Linked DNA regions of Homo sapiens: region 1 is linked to region 2. The links come from fine-mapping of genetic effects on gene expression. A gene starts in region 2. The other region holds a variant in brackets. All regions are shown on one strand. Distances are between the middles of the regions. Region 1 holds the start of LOC124903372. Region 2 holds the start of TCL6 (T cell leukemia/lymphoma 6).

Evidence for each region. PIP is the estimated chance that this variant, and not a neighbour inherited with it, causes the effect.
Region 1: its variant is fine-mapped to the expression of TCL6 in whole blood (INTERVAL, PIP 0.92).

Annotation. Positions count from the first base shown.
Region 1 is chr14:95,664,260-95,667,168 of GRCh38, reverse strand. It overlaps LOC124903372, which reads right to left and starts at 2,356. Exons shown (of 2, transcript XM_047432042.1): 1 at 2,093-2,356. The coding sequence starts at 2,146. The region is part of intron 4 of TCL6 (T cell leukemia/lymphoma 6); the gene reads right to left. RefSeq lists enhancers at 1-455, 1,102-1,749. The variant G/AG (reference allele first, on the strand shown) is at 1,382.
Region 2 is chr14:95,650,451-95,653,359 of GRCh38, reverse strand. It overlaps TCL6 (T cell leukemia/lymphoma 6), which reads right to left and starts at 1,263. Exons shown (of 8, transcript NR_028288.2): 1 at 1,134-1,263; 2 at 871-983.

The sequences.
Region 1 (2,909 bases), 14 kb before region 2:
GGACATTGCATCCACCCGATGTTTACTGGGCATCAGTTAGGAGTTAGGCATTGTTCCTGCTGTGAGATCCCACTGATGCCTGGGGTGACGGATCATCATACTCAACAGAGCTTTCATTTATCAAGTGCTTCTTCTATACCAGACCCGGGATGAAATGCTTTACAGCTAATATCTCGTTTAATCGTCACCAAAAGCCAAGCAGAGGTCGAATCATCCCATTTAACAGTTCAGAAAAAGAAGTCTCATGAGGTGAAACAAGCTGCCCAAAGAGTTTCAGCTTAGCACAGCACAGCTGGGATGGAACCAAGGCCTGTGGGACACCAGCCTGCTTCCCAGCACCTCCCAAGGGGTCCACACCTGGGACATTCTGGGGAAATGCCTGGGATTAGCCAAGGTCCTTGATCCCCTTCCCACACTGCATTGCACACAGGACGGGGCACATTGAGTGTCCATAACCAGTCAGGAGTGACTGGTGGAGGCTTGAACAGCGTGACCAAGCATTCCACCTCACATCAGGGGTCCTGCCCCTAAATCTCAGCGGGACCGCAGCCAAGTGGCTCCCTGACTGGGCCTGGGCAATGAAGAGATGACAGTTGATAAAGATCTTTGGAGAGTTCTCAGAGCACTGATCAAACATAGAGTCACCATTTGGATCAGAGGGAGCTCGTGTTGCTGGCCTTGGATGCTGGCCTGCCACTCTCTAGCTTTGTGACCTTGGGTAAGTGACTTAACCTCTCTGAGCCTCAATCCAACTCAGTTTTCCTGTCTGTATTCCAGGGATAGTAGTAATGCCTTCCTGACAGAGCTCAGAGGTTAAAGGAGATGATGGAGGCAAAGTGCCAGAGCATGGTGCCAGGCCCCAAAGGGTGCAATGATGTGATGGGATCATAAGAAGAGCGGGTATGGTGGCAGCCCCATTTCCCTGCATCCTCCTGGCTCCAAGCATGGGAGGCAACACCCAGTAAACCTGTGGAATTGAGTTGAATCTACCAACCCCAGATAAGAACCCATGTGCAGTGTCATGAAACCACTTGCAGTTATAGGGTAAAGACCTCAGAGGAAAAAAATATGCTTTGTTGGCCGGGCGCAGTGGCTCACGCCTGTAATCCCAGCACTTTGGGAGGCCGAGGTGGGCAGATCACGAGGTAGGAGATCGAGACCATCCTGGCTAACACGATGAAACCCCGTCTCCACTAAAAATGAAAAAAAAAAAAAAAATTAGCCGGGTGTAGTGGCAGGCGCCTGTAGCCCCAGCTACTCGGGAGCCTGAGGCAGGAGAATGGCGTGAACCGGGGAGGCGGAGCTTGCAGTGAGCTGAGATCACGCCACTGCACTCCAGCCTGGGGGACACAGTGAGACTCCGTCTCAAAAAAAAAAAAAA[G/AG]CTTTGTCCACAGTCCAGGGTGGGAGGCCAGTAGGGGGCTTTACTGAGCAGGGCAGAATCTGTTTTCTTTCCCTCCATATTAGAGTCAAGACCATGTAGGGAGCTCCAAATGCCACGCCTTTCCCCAGCTGGTGGCTGCTGTTATGCTGAACCCCTATCTACTCCAATGGGGATGGCAGCAGGTTTGAGAGGCTGAAGAAAGGACCCAGGGCTGCTGAAGGAGACATGGAGTTTTACTGGGGCTTACATGCAGGGGAGAGCATCTAGCAGTGGTGGGCTGGGCAGGAGAGCCACACAACTTACAAAAAGCTTGCAGCATATATAGCATCTTCACTTAGCACCCTCCCCCAACAGTGTCCACCTGGCAACATTTACCTAACCCAAAACAAAGGGCCTTGATCCCCTGTACTGTCCGTGTTGCACAGGACGGGACAGGAGCTCAGATGTTCCTCATAGATAAGGAATAGGAATGAATCTCCAGGTTGGCCACTCCCAGATTCCTTAGCTCAGAACTCCAAACCACATTCACCTGCACCTGCCATAAGGGTCATTCTCAGGGGATGCTTAAGTTATTGCTATCAGGTGCGTTCACTGTAAGCGGCTTTTGGGGAAATCACCTGCTGGGTCTGGAGGAGCAGGGCTATCATAGGAGAAGGTCCCCCAGGTTCAGAAGAGCCTGGTAATCTCAAGCATATCACCTCCAGGCCTCACCTTCCCCATGCATCCATCCAGGGGCCTCTTCCTCTGTGTCACTCTGGGCTCCATCCTCTTGGTGCATTTGGAGTCAGACGAGACCTGGGTTCAAATCCTTGGCTGGAGGGATGCAAGATGCACGTGGAAGGAGAACCAATTCATCCTGTCCAGGCTCTTCTAGAGCAGCTGGTCTCCTGCCGACCTGTCTAGCTGACCCTAGCACCAGAGCAAGCTCAGCCAAGGTGGGCCAAGCCAGGCCCCGGTTGGCAGAAACACTCAACTGACTTGACACATGTGGGCAACAATAAGTGCTTGCTACATTTCGGTGTGGCTTGTCATGGAGCAATAGCTCACTGGTGTAACCAAGAGGCAGCAGAGCTGTGCGTGCGGTAAACAAACAGCAGTCCAGCTGCCAAGGAACATTTCATATACGAAGGCAGGAAGCCGTGACAGCACCTGCAGTTTACCAGCAGGGTAGTTATGAGGCCTGGTGCTGTGGGGGTCCTTCTACCACGAGAGAAGCCAGCCTGGGGACAGAGGACAGAGGAGACCCTATTCCCCACTTGTCCCCTCGTGTGCTCCCACATGGCACAGATATTTGATGCTCAGAGCTGTGCCAGGCATCTTACAAAGGTGAAGGAAAGGAAAACTGTATAAATGGGGATGCCAGCTCAGTGCCCTGATCTGATGAACCAGTGCTGGAAGCTTCTGTTCAGGGATAAAAATAAGCCCTTCTTATTTCAGCTACATTGGCAGGCTTTCTGTTGCCTGCTGCTGAAACTCCTATCTGATGCACAGTGGCTGCCTGGTCCCCACAACTCCCTGATTTCTGCAA
Region 2 (2,909 bases):
ATTCTGAGCCAAATATGAGTGACCATGGCCTGTAACACAGCCCTCAGGAGATCCTGAGAACTATGCCCAAGGTGGTCGGGGTGCAGCTTGGTTTTATACATTTTAGGGAGACATGAGATGTCAATCAAATACATTTAAGAAATACATTGGTTCTGTCCAGAAAGGTGGGACAACTTGAATTGTTGGGTGGAGGTTGGGGGCTCCCAGGTTACAGGTAGATTTAAAATTGACTGGTTGACAATTGGTTAAGTTTATCTAAAGATCTGGGCTCAATAGAAAGAAAATGTCTGTGCTGTGATAGGAGGTTGTGGAGACCAAAGTTTTACCATGCAGATGAAGCCTCCGGGTAGCAGGCTTCAGAGAAAATAGATTGTAAATGCTTCTCATCAGAGAGGTATAATGAGTCCTGTCTGACCTCTACTTTCCATCATGGCCTGAACCAGTCTTTCAGGTTAAAAGTACCCTGGCCCAGGAGGAAGTCCATTCAGATGGTTGCAGGGAGGGCGGGGCTTAGAATTTTATTTTTGGTTTACATCCTGTCTCAAAAGAAAAAAAAAAAGAATAAAAGAGTTTTTGGTTTACACCCTGTCTCAAAAAAAAAAAAATGAAAGAAAAGAAAAATCTCAAGGACATCTAAAAGCTGATAAGACAGAAATTACCAGGCCAAAAATAAAAGGGAAGTAGAATGCAGAAAGGGAAAAAAAACAGAATGGAAGCTGCTTTTTCCCTGAGAGCTTTTTCAGAACCTGAAAATCAGAACTTGTTTGAGCCTCCCGGAGACTGGTGGAGAAAGAAGTCCAGCCAGGCCCTGCCCAACTCTAAAGGAAAACCCAAACTTGTCGATATTTGATGAGACTATAAATCGCTTGCCTCTTTTCACTCTCTGGTGCTCCAGCAGCACAGCCCCACACCAACCTTCATCTGGAGTGTCTCAAGACCTTCTGGAATCTTCTCCCACACATACCTCCTTACACAGGTCCATTCTGTGAAAATAAGCAATTCAAAATCTAAGCTGTTGGAACTTTAAAATATTTCGAGCCTTAAGGGAATTTGATCATGGGACCTGAGTCATGTAAACAGGCAGCTGCAACCTTTGTTTCTCTGATTATAGATTAGCCTTTTTCCTTACTTACATTGTTGTGTAAAATGTCGTATATGACTGAAGCGTTCCAGGGAAGACCCCTTTCCTCTTCACTGTTGATCTTCATTATAGATTAACTCCCTCTTTCCTCTCTGACAGAGACTTCATGACCATCACATTGTCTGGGATAGAATGTTAAACACATTCTTAAATTGGAAAGGAAATGAAAACAAGCTGTAGAGAAAAGAAAACAAGGTGGAGGCAGGGGAACAACCTATAATTAATTATAGGTTGTAACTCATAAACCAGCCTTGCATAGAAAATGTTAAACAAGAAAGTTAAAACAAGAAAAGTTATACAAGAAAATGTTCTACAAGGTTACTAAATGTCTTTGCTTTCTGCCTATGTAAGCAAGACTTTAACTTTTAACTTCAGGGCCCTGGCCCCATTTTCCTAGAGTCTGTGTTTCTCAGATGGCCATTCCCAGCTTTTGGCTTGAATAAACTCTTTAAAACTGGATTCTGGGCTGGGTGCAGCGGCTCACGCCTGTAATCCCAGCACTTTGAGAAGCTGAGACAGGAGAAATCACTTAAGCCCAGGAGTTCGAAACCAGCCTGGTCAATAAAGTGAGACCGATTAAAGAGAAGTAAACTTAAAAACGAACAAAAACAACTTTGTTTTTAAAACTTAAAAACTTAAAAACAACGAAAACCCTGGATTCTGATCCTTTCAATTACTTTATATTGACAATTCTACTATGGGTGCTGCCCAATCAGCCTTGTAAAGCACAGGGCTGACCACTTCAACTCCCTGCTGAGGGTTGAATCTGGAATAAAATCCAGATTCCAGAGCTACGGTGCCCTTAGATCTGGGGCTGTTGCTTTTGTACTTCTGTTTTTCCACTTTACTTAGCTGAAGCACAATCCCTACAGCAAGCTAAGAAAGGAAAAGGTCCATTCCAAAACCCTTCGCTCCCTAGACCACTGCTCTGTGTGCAGACAACGAAAACAGCCGAGAGTTCACACAAAAGGGAAGGACTAACTGCCCGGGGCAGGCTTCAAGGAATGCCTGTTAAGCCCCAGGGAGGAAGTGGCTGTTGACTTGGGAAGAGTCCGTTGGGTAGTCAAGGGCTAAGGTGGTGGTTGACATGAAGGCAAATTTTCCATGCCCTGGTGAGAAGTTGGAATCCTTGCTGTGAACGTTGGGTAGTACAGTTTGCAGGACCATTTGCTTGGCTATTGGGTCCCACCTGTTGACAGGTGCCAAGCCTGATTTTCCTTGGCCTTCCCTCCTGATTTAGCTGAACACCAACCTTCTCAACACAACCCCGAAGTACACCTTGCTCAGTTTTTAACAGAGCTGCTAGATTTCAAGGCATGATTCTCAGCACTGTGTCCGGAATTGGTGGGTTCTTGGTCTCACTGACTTCAAGAATGAAGCCGTGGACCCTCGCGGTGAGTGTTACAGCTCTTAAGGTGGCGTGTCTGGAGTCTGTCCCTTCTGATGTTCAGATGTGTTCGGAGTTTCTTCCTTCTGGTGGGTTCGTGGTCTCGCTGGCTCAGGAGTGAAGCTGCAGACCTTCGCGGTGAGTGGTACAGCTCTTAAGGTAGCGTGTCTGGAGTTGTTCATTCCTCCCGGTGGGCTCGTGGTCTTGCTGGGCTCAGGAGTGAAGCTGCAGATCTTCGCGGTGAGTGTTACAGCTCATAAAAGCAGCGTGGACCCAAAGAGTGAGCAGTAGCAAGATTTATTGCAAAGAGCAAAAGAACAAAGCTTCCACAGTGTGGAAGGGGACCCGAGCGGGTTGCCAATGCTGGCTCGGGCAGCCTGC